2 linked regions of the Homo sapiens genome follow. The protein of the gene in region 1 interacts with the protein of each later gene in a biochemical or structural test. Each region holds a gene or a part of one and is shown on either strand. Other genes may lie near its edges.

Region 1 (7,894 bases):
TCATGCTTGATGCCATCACAGGTTGAGTCTTTAGAAGCTGACAGAAATGGCATTGGAGGTATAAGATATTAACTAGGGCTGGATCCCTGTGAAAGGAAGAGGGAAGAAGCAGGGGTGGGTGAGGGAGGTGAACTGTGGTACAGTCCTGCAGCCTCAGCAGACCCCAGGGTCTACTGTAAAGGCCTATCAGTGTTGTCCCATTGGGTGGAAATGGCTGGGCTTTTATAATCTTAAGTCATTCACTGACCAGATGAGGGCTGTCCTGGGAGGGGAAGGACCTCACGTGAGGCTGCACTCTGCAGCTGAGGCCAACTTTGAAGGAGCTGATAGCTGGGGGTATCTGTTGACCACACTCTCCAAGGCTGGGCAGCAAGTAGCAAGTCCTCCTGTGAAGCAAGTCCTCATATGACACTCCTATGGGGCATCTCTGTGTCTACCGCCGTTACTCATTCTGTGCATATATGTTTGCTTAGGTCCTTGGTATAAATTCCAAGAAGTGGAATTGCTGGGACAGAGTGTGGGCATTTGAAAAACTTTTTATATTTATTGCCCAGTGACCTCCCAGAAAGATTGTACCCCTTTCTCCCATCAAGAGTTCATCAGTAATGCATCAATACATGACAATTGTACTGTTTTACATTTTTAAATATTGAAAGGTATCTCAAATTCCTTTGAAAAATAAATACAAATTTTGATGTTTTATTGTTGTGAATTTCATCTCAAACTCCTAAGGCAGGTGCTGTACCTTTCTCTATAGAGCTGTAGAAATCTTTCCAGAAGGGTAAAACATTCTAATGACTGATATTAGGAGGCAAAGAATTATATTTGGGTCTTCTGAGTTGCAAACTTTCAACATTAAAGAGGCCAAGCAGTGATTGGTGCCTGAGCTGACTTGAAACAGGATTTGCAAAACCCTCCAGCCTTTCCATATAACTATTTGAACAAATACATGAAATCTCCATTTTTTAGGAAAAATCTGACACACTGTTAGAAAGAGAGACCAAAGGGAAATAACCTTCAACCTTCATTTATTGAGTGCCTACTCTATGCTAAGCAATGCCTTGGGCTTTTATATCCACCATCATATTTAATTCTCACAACAATCCTTTGAAGTATTATCCATTATTCAGATGAAGAAATTGAAGCTTAGTGATTCTGGTAGCTTGCTAATATTGTAAGGCATTCAGATCCCCAAGGCTGTGCACTTCTTAACATTCTGGGCTGCCGCCCCCAAAGCTAGTTACACAGCAGCAGCTTTAAATAGTGTAATGTATGTATATATTAACTCTAATAATAATAATTCTTGTGAAGCTTGCAGAATGTCCTACTGGACTGAATAGTGCATAGGATTCAGCATCTAGAATTTTAAAATTTTGTGTCACTTATAACATCTAGCACATATGAGGTATTCACTAATTACTTAAAAGTTTTTTTTTTTTTTTTGTGATGGAGTCTCGTTCTGTTGCCCAGGCTGGAGTGCAGTGCCGTGGTCTCGGCTCACTTCAACCTCTGCCCTCCTGGGTTCAAGTGATTCTCCTGCCTCAGCCTCCCAAGTAGCTAGAATTACAGGTGGCTGCCACCACACCTAGCTAACTTTTTTTGTATTTTTAGTAGAGACCGGGTTTCACCATGTCGGCCAGGCTGGTCTTGAACTCCTGGCTTAGTGACCCGCCCGCCTCGGCCTCCCAAAGCGCTGGGATTACAGGTGTGAGCCACTGTGCCTCGCCGCACTTAAAAGTTTTTGAATAGCCGACAAGAGAGAAATATCTTTCCATTTTCTTTCATCATTCCATTTTCTTTTGGGGTTTGGCCTGATCAGAGTGCAGCCAAGAGGCAAAGAGATGGTTCAGTCAGTGGCCTCCCTTTCAGCAGGAACAGTTGTATTCCTGAAGCTTGCTCATCAGCTTTTCTAAACGGACCCACAGACTAGAGATAGTGCCAATAAAAAGTAGTTGAACAAAAATGAGCCTAACAAACAAAAACCATCACCCCAGTACGGAAGAATGTGGGTGGTGAACTGTTTACTCAGAAGAGATAGGTTCCAATCTAGCTTTTAGAGCTAACTTCCAGAGCACAGGAAGTACAGAAAGAAGAGAAATATGTTGAAGACACCACAAAGAAGCCTAAGATAAATCCAGAAGACAGCCTGGTTTTTTCAATAAGGCAATGTCATTCCAAAAAAAGGGGGAGTGTGGAGGAGGAGGAGTCTCTTTTGGGTTAAAAAAAGATGTGCTAAAATGCAATGGGTGGTCATGGATTGGATCCTGGTCTGAGTAAGTCAGCTGTAAAAGACATTTTTGGGTCAGTTGGAAGAATTTGATATGAGTTGATAATTATTGTTAGTTTTAGTTAGGTGTGAAAATAGCATTATGTTTATTTATGTTTATGTAGGAACGTGTCTTTTCCTTTTTTTTTTTTTTTTTTTTTTTTTGAGACGGAGTCTCGCTCTGTCCCCAGGCTGGAGTGCAGTGGTGTGATCCTGGCTTACTGCACCCTCTGACTCCCTGGTTCAAGCGATTCTCCTGCCTCAGGCTCCCAAATAGTGCCACCACGTCCAGCTAATTTTTTTTTTTTTTTGGATTTTTAGTAGAGACAGGGTTTCACCATGTTGTCCAGGATGATCTCAAACTCCTGACCTTGTGATCCACCCGCCTCTGCCTCCCAAAGTGGGAGAGTGTCCTTTTAAAAATGATATGTATATTGTACCATTTAGGGGTGAAATCTCCTATCTTTAAAACTCTCCACCAGGCTCAGCACTTTGGGAGGCCAAGGCAGGAGGACTGCTTGAGGTCAGAGTTTGAGACCATCCTGGACAACATAGTGAGACCCCTCTCTCTACAAAAAATACAGAAATTAGCTGGGTGTGGTGTCACTTGCCTGTAGTCGCAGCTACTTGGGAGTCTGAGGCAAGAGGATCGCTTGAGCCCAGGAGTTCAAGGTCACGGGGAGCTATGATGGCGCAACTGCACTCCAGCCTAGGCAACAGAGCTGTCTCTTAAAAAACTTAAAAAACAAACAAGAACGGCTGGGGGCGGTGGCTCACGCCTGTAATCAAAGCACTTTGGGAGGACGAGGCAGGCGGATCACGAGGTCAGGACATCGAGACCATCCTGGCTAACACGGTGAAACCTCGTCTCTACTAAAAAAATACAAAAAAATTAGCCAGGCGTGGTGACGGGCGCCTGTAGTCCCAGCTACTCGAGAGGCTGAGGCAGGAGAATGGCGTGGACCCGGGAGGCGGAGCTTGCAGTGAGCCGAGATTGCACCACTGCACTCCAGCCTGGGCGACAGAGCGAGACTCCTCAAAAACAAACAAACAAACAAGAACTTTGGGAGGCCGAGGTGGGTGGATCACCTGAGGTCAGTTCGAGACCAGCCTGGCCAATATGGTGAAACCCCGTCTCTACTAAAAATATAAAAACTAGCTGGGCATGGTGGTGGGCGCCTGTAATCCCAGCTGCTCGAGAGGCTAAGGCAAGAGAATTGCTTGAACCCAGGAGACGGAGGTTGCAGTGAGCCGACACGGTGCTACTGCACTCCAGCCTCGGCAACAGTGAGACTCCATCTCAAAACAAAACAAAACAAAACAAAACAAAACAAAACAAAAACAAACAGAAAGTAAATACAATTTAAAAAATTAAAAAATAAAACCCTCCAGCAGAAAAGGTGATACATAAGGCAAAAGGCAAACAGTTGTTAAATACAGACGCTAGGTTTTAGATAGTATTCTACTAGTCTCTGCTCTGTATCTGACGTTTTTCTTCATAAAAACAACCAGAAAAATAAGAACAAGAGTTTGCTTTCGTTTCAGCAGAGTAAGAACCGGTCTTTGTCTTCCGCCAAAGATGAAGCCATCAACCTGTGGCCTGGATAGTGCCTCAGGAGCGTGGAGTGAGGGACCAGGGAGCTCAGACAGATGAGTAGGCTCCTTTGTGGAGACCTGATTTGAGCACTGGTGTGAAAAAGACCCGCGCAAGCCGACCCGTGTGCCTCCCGCCCCGCCCCCAACCCCCCGGCCCTGCACACCTACCCAGGGCCGCGGCGGATACCGCATAACCTGCCACCTCGCTGTCCCCTGAGTGTCCTCAAACCACGAAGGGTGGGAATTTTGACGCTCACCGCGAGGGCGATCATCAAACGGCCTAAACTGGGCTGAGCGGGCGGGAAGTGGGGAATGCAAGGAACCCTCCAGCTTGCTCGAACCCTCAGCCGCGAGCCGGGGTGGAGGGGCAGGGACCCTCCTTCCACCGCACCCACCTGGAAGCCGGGCGGAGCGGGGCCGAACTCCGCCGGGGGGAAGCGGCAGCACGTGCCAAGGCCACGACCCTCCTCTGCCGCCGGGAGGGCCCGGCCGCCGCAGGGGGCGGGGAGCGTGGGAGGGGACGGCGCTCACCTGGCGGCTGGGCCGGATCGCGGCGGGAGAGCGGGTAGCGGGCTCAGCTGGCCGGGGCTCAGGTGAGGGCGGCGGGCCGCGCTCCCCAGCGGGGGAGGTTTCTTGGCCGGGAAAGGTACAATTGTGTGCAGCTATTTCTGGTATGTCAAGCGGGCCGGGCGGCCGCGAGCCGGGAGGGGCGCCGCTCTCAGGGGCCCGGGAGAGGGCAGGGGCCAGGCGGGCGGGTGCGGGAAGGATGCGGGCGCGGGGGCGCATCCTCTCGGGGCGGAGCCGCGGGCTGTGCGGGAACCCCAGCGGGGCCCGGGCCGCGGCCCCTGGCGGACTGTGGCATCTCCCGGGCCAGACAGTCTGACCACAGAGGCGGCCGCGGCCGGGAGCCCGGGGAGCCAAGGGAGGGGCAGACGGAAGCGGCGACTCGGCGGGCCCCGGGAGGGCGGTGGGGTGGGCCGGGGCGGGGCCACCGCGGGGAGGACGGCGGCGGCGCTGCGACTTTTGAAGTCCAAACTGTCGTCGGGGCTGGTGCCGCGCGCTGCCGCTGGGCACCCGCTTCGCTTCCCGCGTCCTGCCTGACTGCCCGGGTCCCCGCGGGCCTTGGGTCGCTTTCAGGAGTTTAGAGAAAGCCAGGTCTTCACGTTCGTGTAGGTTCGAGACCTTAACGAACTGCAGAGCGCAACAAAGGGAACTAGAGCCCCGGCGCCTTCGCAGCCGGAGCGGAAGCCGGAGTTGTGGGAGGCCCGCGTGCCCTCCCCGCCCGTGGGGCCCAGACGCGCGGGGACAACCCCTCCCCTCCACGCATCCCGAGTCTCTCTCTCCCTCCCTTGTCCTAGCCATGGAAGGGCTGGAGGAGGCAGAGGCCAACTGCTCCGTGGCGTTCGCTGAGGCTCAGAGATGGGTGGAGGTGAGTGCCTTTCACTGCTTTCCCTTCCGCAGGTGTTGACTGCCTCGGGGCGGTCGTCGCGAGGTGACTGCAGCCCCAGTCACTCTGCACTTTAGCCTCCTTCGGCGACCCAGCCGACGTGAACAAGCTGGTTTGCTTGTGCACTTTTGGGGACTCTGCGGGTTCTGCCGCTCCTGCATCTTATGTCCCGCTTAGATTGGCGCTGCCCTAACCCCCGCCCCCCGACGGTGTCACTGGCTTCCTAGGGCAGAGGTGGGCGTTCGCCTGCCGGCATCGCGCGTCCCGGAGGAGCAGCGCAGTCCGCCCTGGCTCGCCCGGGGCGTCTCTGCGGGGCACAGCCCAGAGCGCGCGGTGCAGAGCTGGGCCAGGGCTCTCGGGTGCATTCCCTCGGGGTGCCTAGAAGTGGGGATGCTCACCTTATACCTGAGAAGCCAGTGTATTCAGTGTGGAGGGGGGGAGCGGAAAAGAAGGGTGGGTGGGAGGGCAGGTGGAGGAGGTAACACACCGAAGGCCCACCTGGAAGGATGATTTCTCTGGGGCCGCATCCAAGCCCAGGGGGTAGGGGCCGGGGCATGTGCTTTTTCATTTTCGGCTTTGATGAGACTGAGATCCTAGGATCATTCGCTGAAGAGCTGTTACCCTCCCAGCTGTGCCTCACAGACAAGATCTTCCATTCCCTTCTTTCACCCTGAAAAAGAGCGGGTCTCTTCATTAACGCCTTGGGGCTACATTTATCTGTAGAAGGTTAACATCAGGACTTCTAGCCGTTATTCCACTGGACGCAAAAGATGACTTTTAAAACGAGGCAAAAGTCTTCCAAGCAGATGTGAATCAGGAACAACTGCTGAAAATTGAGGCGTGCACAAGCCCTGCAGTCATTTAGGAGTTATTGATGCCACGTGCTGGTTTAGTTAACATATTTAAAACTTCGAATTAGGCTTAAAGATTATTCCACGGAAAAAACTACATGTTTAAGAATTCCAAAGCGAACGATACTTGAAAATAATGTATTTTTCCTTAAAGAAATACATGTATGTGTGTGGAAAGAAAGAATAAATTACATTTCTTACGCTAAATAAAGGAATGTGAAATGTGAGTAGCATTAACCACGGGACAGTAGGGAGGTCTAAGGAATGAGCTTTTAGTGTCTTTTTAGATTGAAACTTTGAGCTGGTCTGAAGGTGACTTAGAAAGATGTGAAGGGAGGGGCATGGGAAGTTGAGAGAAGAATAAACGCTGTATTTTGAATTGAAATGAGAGTGGAAAAATTCCAGCAATATAGTTAAGAGAAATAACTTCCCTCATTCATAAACTTTGAAAAGCCAAGACTTCCAACTGTAATTTTCCATTAGCAGTGTGTGTTCTGCATAATTTTAGAAAACAAACTTGCCATTTTGTGTTTGAGTGTTGGGGATTGAAGGAGGGAGAAGGGGAGACGTGGGGACATGTTTTGGTCATACATGGCTTCTGTGTGGAGTTTGCATCTGCGTGCTTTGTATTTGCTTCAGGAAACATGAATAGGAATGATTCCACACCCTTCCCTTTTTTTTTAGTATGCACATTTTGGAAAACGATGAATTCCTTTTTTGTCCCTGCTTGCTCATAATTATGTAGGTTTTCTCCAAGAAATTTGTATGTAATGAATGGGGGGAAAGTGTATTGTGATAAAAGATATCATTGCGCATATTACATGTGGTCTGTTTTCACTCTCATCGCAGTCTATGTAAAGGTGTTTATCAGCAATGATTTGGCACCTCTATAATGTATTTTGTTCATCGTTAGCAGAGAGCTGGATCTTCCTAAAGGTACTGTCATATCCTTTTAATATAGTTAATGAAATTAAAATTTTTTTTCATCCCACTTGGAACAAGGCAGTATGTTTGCCTTCATTGTGTATATATGAGTAATTTACATGTTCAGATACTTTTAGTATACTCTGGGCATTTGAAATGACCACAGTGTGCTCACTGTTAGGGCTATTTTGTTTCTCCAGTGTCCACATCTATCTCTCTTGTCAGCTTTGCCTTTGCCACCAAAGCACATATTTTAAAATATTGTTCTTGCCAAAAGAAGCAGGATGAATGACTCTGTCATCATCACAACCTCTTTAAGAACCCCTAATCTGAAGATAAAAGGTTGATTCCAATGTGTATTTGTAAAGTATTCTTTCCCCTGCTTGCTGATAGTCTTGCTACATTTTGCCCTATTCCTTTACACATTACTGAAATATAGGAGGGTTTTTAAGTGTATATATTGTATATGTATGTACATATATACATATGTATTATAATATATGTTCTATCTGTATTACATATATATTCGCAACTGCAGCTTTGAATACCCCAAAGTCAACTCCAATAACCTTGTAAAGTTTTGAATGATGACTGGACTCCATGTCAGCATCTCCTTGTCATTTCCATTTTCTATCTGTGATTTTTAGTAGCTAATGTGTTATTCTCACAACCAAAGTTTATTTTTTAGAGTGGAGGAGGAAGAGTGAGGTAAGAGCTAGTGGTTATTATTCTGCCAATTATGATCACTTTATGAATCTTGTTTTTACTTATTTCAAATTGTACTTATATACTTGAGTATATATAAAAATT
Region 2 (3,660 bases), on another chromosome or scaffold:
TCTGGGATCGTTGCAGGAAGGTTCTAAGGGCTCAGGAGTGTGAGTGGCCCAGGCACCTGCCGTCAGCCTGTCTTCTGTGCTCCGCCTGTCGTGGGCAGCCGGAGAGGCGGCGCGGCCGTGGTGGGAGCCCAGGACCCCACTGAGCCCCCACGCCTGTCTCGCAGCCTGAGCGGTGCATCCCCGTTCCTGGGCGAGACCAAGCAGGAGACGCTCACCAACATCTCAGCCGTGAACTACGACTTCGACGAGGAGTACTTCAGCAACACCAGCGAGCTGGCCAAGGACTTCATTCGCCGGCTGCTCGTCAAAGATCCCAAGTACGAGGGGCCGGCAGGGGGCACGGGGTGGGACATGGGACACAGGCCCACTCCACCCACGGAGGCTCCAGAGGACTCTCCTCCCAGCGCCACCTCCCTGCGGCTGGGGATCAGACATTGCTTACCCCTTGGGCTGGAGAGAGTAAACTGATAAACTGGTGGCCCAAGCTGGCCATTGCCATGGTTTTTTTTTTTTTTTTTTTTTGAGACGGAGTCTTTTTTTTTGAGACGGAGTCTTGCTCTGTCTCCCAGGCTGGAGTGCAGTGCAGTGGCGTGATCTCGGCTCACTGCAGCCTCTGCCTCCCGGGTTCAGGCTATTCTCCTGCGTTAGCCTCCCAAGTAGCTGGGATTATAGACGCCCGCCACCACGCCTGGCTAATTTTTGTATTTTTAGTAGAGACAGGGCTTCACCATGTTGCCCAGGCTTGTCTTGAACTCCTGACCTCCTTGGTTTGTGATTTGCCTGCCTTGGTCTCCCAAAGTGCTGGGATTGCGGGCGTGAGACACCGTGTCTGGCTGCTTGCTGTGTTTTTAGCAAACTTTTAATTAGTTGCCGGTGTGTAAAGTAAGGATCCATGTAAAATTCCAGGTCACTTGTTTTCCTGTAAACACTTAGAATTCTGGCAGTGCTGAGCCCTCACTCGTAGGCCTCCCCGGGCCTCCATGGCCGCCCAGTCCCTCTCTCGGGCGCCTGGGTTTGCGACTCCAGCCTGAGGTCTCAGCTCTCTCCACCACCCCCCAGAAAACCCCACGCTCCCTGCAGTACCCTTGTTCAGCTTCTGTGGTTGGCTGAGCAGAGGCTGGGGGGCGACTTTAGGGCTTTTGGGGGTCCCGGGAGTCAGTTGTTCACGGGAGGACGGGACAGATGGTGCAGGTGTACCTAACCAGAGCGGGGGTCTTCCAGGCGGAGAATGACCATTGCCCAGAGCCTGGAACATTCCTGGATTAAGGTAAGTGGGGAGGTGGGGGAGCTCCCTGGGCTTCCCGCCTTGGCCTTCTCGCTGGGGTCCCGGGGGGCCTTCAGCATTTAAGGCTTGTGGATGTGACAACCCCCAGTGGCTGGGGAGGGTCCCCAGAGGAGTGAGCCTGTGTGGCGGGGGTTGGGTCCTGGGCGTGGGATGTCCAGCACCCGACAGACCTGGTGGCATCCTTGGCTGGTGTGTGTCCAACGGGGCTGACTCCTGGGGCCAGGGCCGCAGCGTTTTTCTCGAGAGAGCACTCTCGGCTTTGCGTCGGGCTGGGCAGTCTCCGTCACGAGGCGTTGACTCTGCTGCCGGATGAGCCCCTGAACCTCAGTTCACACTGGCAGGTGGGGGCTGGCGGGGCTGGGTGGCATCGCGGGGACCCCGCTCAGGCTTCCCTCCTTCCTAGGCGATCCGGCGGCGGAACGTGCGTGGTGAGGACAGCGGCCGCAAGCCCGAGCGGCGGCGCCTGAAGACCACGCGTCTGAAGGAGTACACCATCAAGTCGCACTCCAGCTTGCCGCCCAACAACAGCTACGCCGACTTCGAGCGCTTCTCCAAGGTGCTGGAGGAGGCGGCGGCCGCCGAGGAGGGCCTGCGCGAGCTGCAGCGCAGCCGGCGGCTCTGCCACGAGGACGTGGAGGCGCTGGCCGCCATCTACGAGGAGAAGGAGGCCTGGTACCGCGAGGAGAGCGACAGCCTGGGCCAGGACCTGCGGAGGCTACGGCAGGAGCTGCTCAAGACCGAGGCGCTCAAGCGGCAGGCGCAGGAGGAGGCCAAGGGCGCGCTGCTGGGGACCAGCGGCCTCAAGCGCCGCTTCAGCCGCCTGGAGAACCGCTACGAGGCGCTGGCCAAGCAAGTAGCCTCCGAGATGCGCTTCGTGCAGGACCTCGTGCGCGCCCTGGAGCAGGAGAAGCTGCAGGGCGTGGAGTGCGGGCTGCGCTAGGCGCAGTGGGGTGGGCCAGGCCCCAGGACAGCCGGAGCTCGGCCTGCGGTGGGGGCGCTTCCTGTGGACGCTGCGCCTCCCATCGCCCGGGTGCCTGTCCTTGCCCAGCGCCACCAGGCTGGAGGCGGAGTGGGAGGAGCTGGAGCCAGGCCCGTAAGTTCGCAGGCAGGGGTGGGTGTGGGACGGGGCTGCTTCTCTACACAGCCTCCACGCTGGCCTTCACCTTCACCCCTGCATCGTCGGTGACCCTGGGACCCTCCAGGCAGCGTGGCCTGTGGCACCGTGAGGGTTGGGACCCACCGAGGCGCAGAGGCGGCCCGAATGCAGCCCTGGTTCAGGCCCGGAGGAGGGTTTGCGGGTAGTTGCACGGACAATTCGGCGGGGTGCTGCCTGTTGCTGCCATTAGCCCAGGAGGAGGTCGTGGGACGGGGAGGGTGGGATGGACGGCGGACAGGCAGTCCCCACGCTGCTGGGTGGCGCCGGGCTTGGTGGGGTCTTCCACTGTGTGCCCTTCTCGCCGAGGCCGGTCCCCCGGGTGTGGGGTGCCCTGCTGCGGACTCCTCCGCGAGCCCCATCGTCGCGCCTGTGGACGCCTAGGCAAGAGCGGCCCTCTGCAGCCAAGAGAAATAAAATACTGGCTTCCAGATACGCGGGTGTTGTGTGCCTCAGGCCTTGGCAGGGGACAGCCAGCCCTTGGCCACTGGGGATATGCCCTCCGCGGCGTTCATGTTTCTCTCTGTGTTCCATGCCTGCCGCTGTGCTCAGGAAGGAGGGGACAAACCGGGGGTCCTCGCAGACCTTCACGGTGTCCTGGGAGCTGCCGGATCTTGGTCTCAGCTGCCCCGAGTGTTTTGATTGCAATGAGGTGGAAGCTCTGGGCAGCTGAGGTGGATCAGAAGCGTTTCCTGTCCCTTTGCGCCTTACGGGATGCTGCTGTGTCCCACGTGGGAGCCCCTGCCCCGTCTGGAGCCACATGCAGGTGGCCCTGGAGGGGGAGCGGCTCAGCTCAGCTGCTAGGGCTCACAGGTGGTTTCAGAGAGGGGCCCCGACCCTGTCCATCCTCCCTGGAGGAAGTTTTTTTGCTTTTTTTTTTTTTTTTTTTTTTGAGAGCGAGTCTGGCCCTGTTGCCCAGGCTGGAGTGCAGTGGTGCGATCTTGGCTCACTGTAACCTCGGTCTCCTGGACTCAAGCGGGTCTCCTGTCTCAGCCTCCCAGGTGTCTGGGATTACAGGCATACACCACCACACGTGGCTAATTTTTTTTTTTTTTTTTTTGAGGTGGAGTTTTGCTCTTGTTGCCCAGGCTGGAGTGCAGTGGTGTGGTCTTGGCTCACCGCAACCTCCGTCTCCCATGTTCAAGCGATTCTTCTGCCCCAACCTCGCGAGTAGCTGGGTTTACAGGCATGTACCACCACACCGGGCTAATTTTGTATTTTT

What was found.
Region 2: of the proteins of LMO7 (region 1) and DAPK3, one has a biochemical effect on the other in vitro, tested with the Homo sapiens proteins (one study listed by BioGRID).

The regions. Positions count from the first base shown.
Region 1 is NC_000013.11:75,631,436-75,639,329, forward strand, and holds the start of LMO7 (LIM domain only protein 7), read left to right. Parts: upstream 1-4,894; 5' UTR 4,895-5,222; coding exon 5,223-5,291; intron 5,292-7,894.
Region 2 is NC_000019.10:3,957,666-3,961,325, reverse strand, and holds the end of DAPK3 (death-associated protein kinase 3), read left to right. Parts: intron 1-164; coding exon 165-317; intron 318-1,221; coding exon 1,222-1,267; intron 1,268-1,688; coding exon 1,689-2,225; 3' UTR 2,226-2,873; downstream 2,874-3,660. UniProt on the Homo sapiens protein: Serine/threonine kinase which is involved in the regulation of apoptosis, autophagy, transcription, translation and actin cytoskeleton reorganization. Involved in the regulation of smooth muscle contraction.